Linked DNA regions of Homo sapiens. The protein of the gene in region 2 interacts with the protein of the main gene of each other region in a biochemical or structural test. Each region holds a gene or a part of one and is shown on either strand. Other genes may lie near its edges.

Region 1 (3,648 bases), on a different chromosome or scaffold from region 2:
AAGAACTGTGGAGATTGGACCTGTGGTATAAGTAGACTCCCTACCACCTCCTGTATTTCCTAGGCTTTAATAGGGCCAGGTGGCCATTGTGCCTTCTTCTTTGGGGTAAAAATAAAATAAAAATAAGAGAAAAAAAAAAGAAGGAAATAGGGCCAGGTGGGAGTTGGGGGACTGTGTGTGTGTGAGTTTGTGTATGTGAAAGAGGGAAAGAAAAGGGGGATACAGAGTAGAGCACACCAGTCTCCCCAACTCCAAACCTGATGAAGTGGAAAGGGCTGGGCTCCTTTATTGAAATTCCAAACTAGAACCAAACTATTCTTGACCTGAAGAGCCTAGAAAGGTGCTGGATCGGGCTGGACGTGGTGGCTCACGCCTGTAATCCCAGCACTTTGGGAGGCTGAGGCGGGTGGATCACAAGTCAGCAGTTCGAGACCAGCTTGACCAACCTGGTGAAACCCCGTCTCTACTAAAAATACAAAAAACTAGCTGGGCATGGTGGTGTGCGCCTGTAACACCAGCGACTTGGGAAGCTGAGGCAGGAGAATCGCTTGAAACCAGAAGGCGGAGGTTGCAGTGAGCCGAGATTGCGCCACTGCACTCTATCCTGGGCAATAAGAGCAAAACTCCATCAAAAATAAATAAATAAATAAACAAATAAATAAAGTTGCTAGATCGGCTGAGATCATGCCCAGTGGGGTGGGAGGAGCTAGACAAAGCAGAGCAGTTAGTGGACAAAAGAAAAGCTCAGACAACAAAATTAAGAATAAAACAAAACATGCTTTCCTGTTTATGTCTGCCGAGTGGAGATTCCCGGCTGAATGGGTGGAGATCTTGGGGCATTGCCCTGGTCCTCCTTTTCCGTAGTCCCAAGGGGAAGTGTTTGTGTATGGGGGGCTGGGGGTTGGGGTGGGGGAGGTGGGTGTGGAACTCCAGGTGATAATTTCAGAAGATTCCATCTAGCTGTCTTTATGCCCACCTTAGACCAACACAGTCTTCACATTAAGGGGAGTCCTTACAAATACTAACCCTTCTTCCTAGTTGCAAACACAGAAAGGTTTATGAAAAATATCTGGCGAACATCTAAAACCCAAGTCATCCACTACTGTTCTGCTGATTTCTGTTTCCCTGTAAGGCTGGAAGAGGTTTCTCCCCAGAATGTCACTGATTTTGAATTTATTTTCTCTTCTTCTGTAGGCAGGAGGAGACACCAGTGTGCACCAGAGAAGGAGAAGTCAGAGATGACAGTCCCTGCCTGAGGCCATCTCTGGTCCACCAGACAACTCATCACCAACTTCCCAACAGCCACTGCTCTAGGCCAGGTGTCCACATGGGGAATAGGTCCAGGCCCTCTATGGCTCTCGCAGGAGTCAGGGAGGCAGATAAATAACATATCACAAAGACAGAATATAAGAAATGCCTGGGAGGAGGCATACTGATGCGTGGAAAGTACTCAGCCAGAAGCCTGGCACTAGAAGGGCCCAGGGATTGTTGGCATGTATGAGTCACAGTTCCATTTCAGTGGAGTGAGCAGGGAGAGAATCTCCTGGAAGTAGGTGAATAGAGAAAATACAGCCTCTTCCTTACCTTTGAATTTTTTTAGGCTCCCTGTGATGGAGTCATGTCTTGATTTTGCTTCACTGAGTTTTTTCTCCAGTTCCAGAGGAACAGGGGTTGGGTTGAGAAACTGAAACTCTTCACTTCTAGGAAGATGTGGTTGAGCTGGTTGGTGAGATCAGGGGATGAGGTGTGGGAGAAGGAGGATCTGAGATACGCGGTTGAGAAATGAGGGGATGAAGACCTGGGGGTAGAACTGAGAGCAGTGGCTCACACCTGTAATCCCAGCACTTTGGGAGGCTGAGGCGGGTGGATCACCTGAGGTCAGGAGTTCAAGACTAGCCTGGCCAACATGGTAAAACCTGGTCTCTACTAAAAATATGAAAATTAGCCAGGCTTGGTGGCAAGCGCCTGTAGTCTCAGCTACTTGGGAGGCTGAGGCAGGAGAATCACTTGAACCTGGGAGACAAAGGTTGCAGTGAGCTGAGATTGCACCACTGCACTCCAGCCTGAGCAACAAGAGCAAAGCTCCATCTCAAAAAAAAAAAAAAAAAAAAAAAAAGAAGACCTGGCGGTTAAGGGATAGTGAGCTGGGAGTCAGAAAGTCAGGGCTAGGGATATGGGGCGGGAGTGAGGTAGGGCATAGGGAGATATGGAAATGAAGATGGGAGATGGAGACAGAGAGGAGGGAAAAAAACAGGGTCAGGGAGACAGAGTAGGGGACCCAGGAGCTATTCAGTTGAGCAAGGGGGCATTCAGGAAATAGTAGAATCTGTGCTGAAGAAGGAGGAAGGCTGAGAAAACAGCTGGTTTCTTTAACAACCAACCACGTGCTAATATGGTTGGCATAGGCATTCCCCGGCTGCAGCCTAAATGTATGAATGCAGAGTTAGAGGTGGGTGGGTATTTCTGAGAGAGGAATGTTGACTGCATTTGGATATACGCTGAGAATTGTGTGTGGATGAATCAGTAGGCAAAATACATTTGGGGTGGCCCATCATACCTGCACAAGACGACTTTGATATCCTAGAAGAGAAAGAGAAACAGCACAGCCTCAGCACTTGGCTGATTCCCAGGAGCCAAGGAGGAGATACAGAGCCTGCTGGGTGTGGGGCAGAGCAGGAGGAGTAAGAACCCCTCCAAGTCTCTCTTACCCCATCCTCCTCCCCTCTCCCCACCACGAAGGGCTTCTCCAAGAAGCACTGCTCTGCCAGTAAGCAGAAAAGTGTTTTGACCTCAAGAAGAACTGAGTGAAGAAGAGAAGAGTGAGATTTAGAAGATGAATTTGGCTCTGAGACTGAACAAGGGAGCCTGCTAGCCAGGGCAGGAGAAAGGCTAGAATGGCTTTGCATGATCTTTCTTAAAATAAATAAATAGGTTTTTGAACCTGTGGGAGAATAGATGACTTGAGGAGGAATCATCTCAGCTTATTTTAAGCACCAGCTAGACTTGCACTGTCCAATATGGTAGCCACCAACCACATGTGGCTACTGAACATTGGAAATTGTGGCTAGTGTGACAAAGAACTGAATTTTTAATTTCATTTTTACTAATTCAAATTTAAATTAAAAATAGAGGCCAGGCACGGTGGTTCACGCCTGTAATCCCAGCACTTTGGGAGGCTGAGGTGGGCAGATCACTTGAGGTCAGGAGTTCGAGACCATCCTGGCCAACATGGTAAAACCCCGTGTCTGCTAAGAATACAAAAATTAGCTGGGCGTGGTGGTGGGGACCTGTAATCCCAGCTACTTGGGACTTGGGCCTAGGAGGCGGAAGTTGTAGTGCGCCAAAATCGCGCCACTGTACTCCAGCCTGGGCAACAGAGCAAGATTCCATCTCAAAAAATAAAATAAAATAAATAGAAGAAGGGTAAAGTACTTTTTCCATTAAACACAACTTTATTGATTTGGTAAGACTATATTTTACTTTAACAATTGACAATTTAGCATCTGAATTGAGATGTGCCAAAGTGAAAAATATACACACAATTTCAAAGACTCAGTGTAAAAAAAAAAAAAAAAAAAACCACCAAAAACCCAGAATGTGAAATATCTCATTAATACTTTTAAAATATTCATTACAGGCTGAAAGGAT
Region 2 (3,648 bases):
ATTGAATTTACTTTTATGAAAGTACATTTTTATTACATTATACTGTAAAATGCCTAGAAGTTATCCAATTACGATGGCAATATCATATATAAACAATAATCACAAAACCCTCAGGGAGCTTAACCCTATTAAAGGCAATCAGACTTTAAAGAAAAGAAAGGCTACAAGAGCCTGGTCAGAGCGCTATGGCCAGCTCTTCTCCATTCCCTTGCCGCCCGAACTACCACTGCACCCTTGTAGGCAGACGTGGCAGTTTTGGTCTGTTTAACTGACAGAGAAATCCACCAATCTTTCCTTATAGTGTCTATATTTGATGCTATACATACGAAAGTCTTCTCCACCCAGAGACTGGACAACTATTAATTTAAGGTTTTATATTTAATGCTTTAAGACTTCCAGAATTTATTTTGATATGTTATTTAAAGTACAGAGCTTGGCCGGGCACGGTGGCTCATGCCTGTAATCCCAGCACTTTGGGAAGTCCAGGCGGGTGGATCACGAAGTCAGGAGTTCGAGGCCAGCCTGGCCAACATGGCGAAACCCCACCTCTACTAAAAATTAGCCAGGCGTGGGGACAGGCACCTGTAATGCCAGCTTCTTGGGAGGCTGAGGCAGGAGAATCGCTTGAACCCAGGAGGTGGAGGTTGCGGTGAGCTGAGATCGTGCCACTGCACTCCAGCCTGGGCAACACTCCAGCATGGGCAACACTCCAGCCTGGGCAACAAGAGCAAGACTCTGTCTCAAAAAATAAAAAAATAGAGCTTAACCTGATAAAGTAATTTTTAAAGAAATACCCAATACATGGTTACTTTATTGACCTCTATATTACAGTGCACTTTCCTAAGTGCATTATGTTTCACAATAAAAAAAAGTTAAAAAAAAAAAAAAAAAAGGAAAAGGTTTGAAAAACAAACTGGAAATAATCTGGTGCCTCATGCCTTTACAAAAAAATTATCTGATCAGATCTCATAGTACTAAATTATTTTAATAACCATTTAACATAAACATCCAGTTAGAAATGCAATATTCATACTGAGGTGCAGCTATCTGTGCTAGGACAGAGGTTGGCTCAGATTGACAGATTGACTGATTGATTGATTGATTTTGAGGTGCAGTCTCACTCTGTAGCCCAGGCTGGAGTGCAGTGGCGCGATCTCGGCTCACTGCAACTTCTGCCTCCTGGGTTCAAGGGATTATCCTGCCTTAGCCTCCCGAGTAGCTGGGATTACAGGCGCCTGCCACCACACCCAGCTAATTTTTCTATTTTTAGTAGAGACGGGCTTTCACCATGGTGGCCAGGCTGGTCTGAAACTTCTGACCTCAGGTGATCCACCCGCCTCAGCCTCCCAAAGTGCTGGGATTACAGGCGTGAGCCACTGCCCCCAGCCAGAATAGAATTTTTTAAAAAGACAACAAAGTGAGATACAAGGTCAGTCTCTGTGTGCTTTTTCTTTTTTGGTAAATTCATCAAGGAACAGTTTTAGAATTGCAGGTAACCACTATTCAAACTTGTCAAGAGACAAAGAAAGGTGAATAAAACATAAAACCAAAAAAGCAAAACCTGGCTGGGCTAGGTGGCTCACGGCTGTAATCCCAGCACTTTGGGAAGCCAAGGCGGGCAGATCACGAGATCAGGAGATCCAGACCATCCTGGCTAACATGATGAAACCCCGTCTCTACTAAAAATACAAAAAATTAGCCGGGCGTGGTGGCAGGCGCCTGTAGTCCCAGCTACTTGGGAGGCTGAGACAGGAGAATGGCGTGAACCCAGGAGGCAGAGCTTGCAGTGAGCCGAGATCACGCCACTGCACTCCAGCCTGGGCGACAGAGCGAGACTCTGTCTCAAAGGAAAAAAAAAAAAAAAAAAAAAAGCAAAACCCAATCATATTCACATGGTTTTGAAATATTCTCAAAGACAGACCAAAACATGCCCTCTCGCCAGGCCTAACTCAATTCCAGCTGAGCTCTGCCATCGCAGAGTGGGCTTTTGTCCAGCCCAGGACAAAGGTCTGAGGTCACTGAGAATGATCTAGAACACCAGTGAACAGAGGAAAAATGGCCATTGGCAAATGACCATAGCACCCAGCATCTTAAGACAGAATGCTACGAGATTTTTACTCCAAGCCCCCACCCAAGATTCCACCACATGGTTCTACTTTCGTCTGTTTAAATTGGTAAGATCTCTACAGAGGAATCTGAGACCAAAAAAGAAGAATGAAGTGAAATCATCTGCATATGGATATGAGCACAGTAAATAATTATAATATATAACAGAACATTTTTTATTCAGAGTCTGTAGCTTTGAACTTACTAGAGTTTCAACATATCTTAACATGTCAAAGGAGCTCAGGTCTGAGCGCAGCTGCTTTGCTTTCTCTTTGCCCAAATCTGAAGCCAAAACAAGAAAGTGGGCATCCAGGACTGCTTCTCTTGCTCGGGACACTATTCAAAAAAGAAAGAAAATATTCACATTACAAAATACACATTATCCATAGACTTTTTCCCTACATTTCCAACTACTTACCAGGATTTCCCACTGGACTAAAAAAAAAAAAAAATCTCAATAGGCAACTGACACATCTCCTTCTAAAACGTGCTCCTGGCCAGGTGCGGTGGCTCAAGCCTGTAATCCCAGCACTTTGGGAGGCCAAGGCGGGCGGATCACGAGGTCAGGAGATCGAGACCATCCTGGCTAACACGGTGAAACCCCAGCTCTACTAAAAATACAAAAAATTAGCAGGGCGTGGTGGCGGGCGCCTGTAGTCCCAGCTACTTGGGAGGCTGAGGCAGAATGGCGTGAACCCGGGAGGCAGAGCTTGCAGTAAGCCAAGATCGCGCCACTGCACTCCAGCCTGGGTGTCAGAGCAAGAGGCTGTCTCAAAACAAAAACAAAAACAAAAAAAAACTTTCTCCTGTGCCCAACTCACCAAAATCTCTAATGAAAGCTGACCAGTCTTCCTAAAAGCCAGCTTTCTGTCTAGTTCTCCTACTGTTAGCTGAATCACAATCTCTTAAATAACTCCAGTTGAGCAAAACCCGTCATGTCTAATACTCACTTTTCCCTCCATCCTAATCACGATGATCATGTGTGCTGACGTAAGGAAAATCAAATTCCCACTACATGTAGGGCCCTGTGCTTGGCATGGTGGTTTGTGAACAGCAATAGGTAAGCTGCTAAGCAATAGGTAAGTTGCTAAAGTTGCTAACCAAAATCATGGCATGTGCTAGGCTGGCACTAGGAGGCTCATGCCTCTGTATGGCTTCACAGGCAACCCCAGCAAAGCCACCCAAATGAACAGTCTACAGGTAGCAGGTAGTGACCCGAGGACGGATACTCAAAAAAGGCTTGACAGAGGACATGGGATTTAAGAAAAGCTATGGAAAAAAAAGATTTAAATTAATGCAGAAACAGGCTGGGCACAGCAGCTCATGCCTGTAATCCCTACACTTTGGGAAGCCGAGGCAGGCGGATCACTTTGAGCTCCAAAGTTTGAGACCAGCCTGGGCAACGTGGTGAAACCCCATCTCTACTAAAGAATCAAAAATTAGCTGGGCATGGTGGTGCACACCTGTAATCCCAGCTACTCGGGTGGCTGAAGCTGGAGAATAGCTTTAACCTGGGGGGGGCAGAGGTTGCAGTGAGCCAAG

The links. The genes of interacting proteins can lie anywhere in the genome.
Region 1: the proteins of NSMCE4A (region 2) and TRIM31 form a complex in vitro, tested with the Homo sapiens proteins (one study listed by BioGRID).

Annotation. Positions count from the first base shown.
Region 1 is NC_000006.12:30,106,469-30,110,116, forward strand, and holds part of TRIM31 (E3 ubiquitin-protein ligase TRIM31), read right to left. Parts: intron 2,581-3,648; coding exon 2,558-2,580; intron 1,720-2,557; coding exon of another isoform or gene 1,701-1,719; coding exon 1,585-1,700; intron 1,320-1,584; exon of another isoform or gene 1,195-1,319; intron 1-1,194.
Region 2 is NC_000010.11:121,968,628-121,972,275, forward strand, and holds part of NSMCE4A (non-structural maintenance of chromosomes element 4 homolog A), read right to left. Parts: intron 2,443-3,648; coding exon 2,312-2,442; intron 1-2,311. UniProt on the Homo sapiens protein: Component of the SMC5-SMC6 complex, a complex involved in DNA double-strand breaks by homologous recombination. The complex may promote sister chromatid homologous recombination by recruiting the SMC1-SMC3 cohesin complex to double-strand breaks.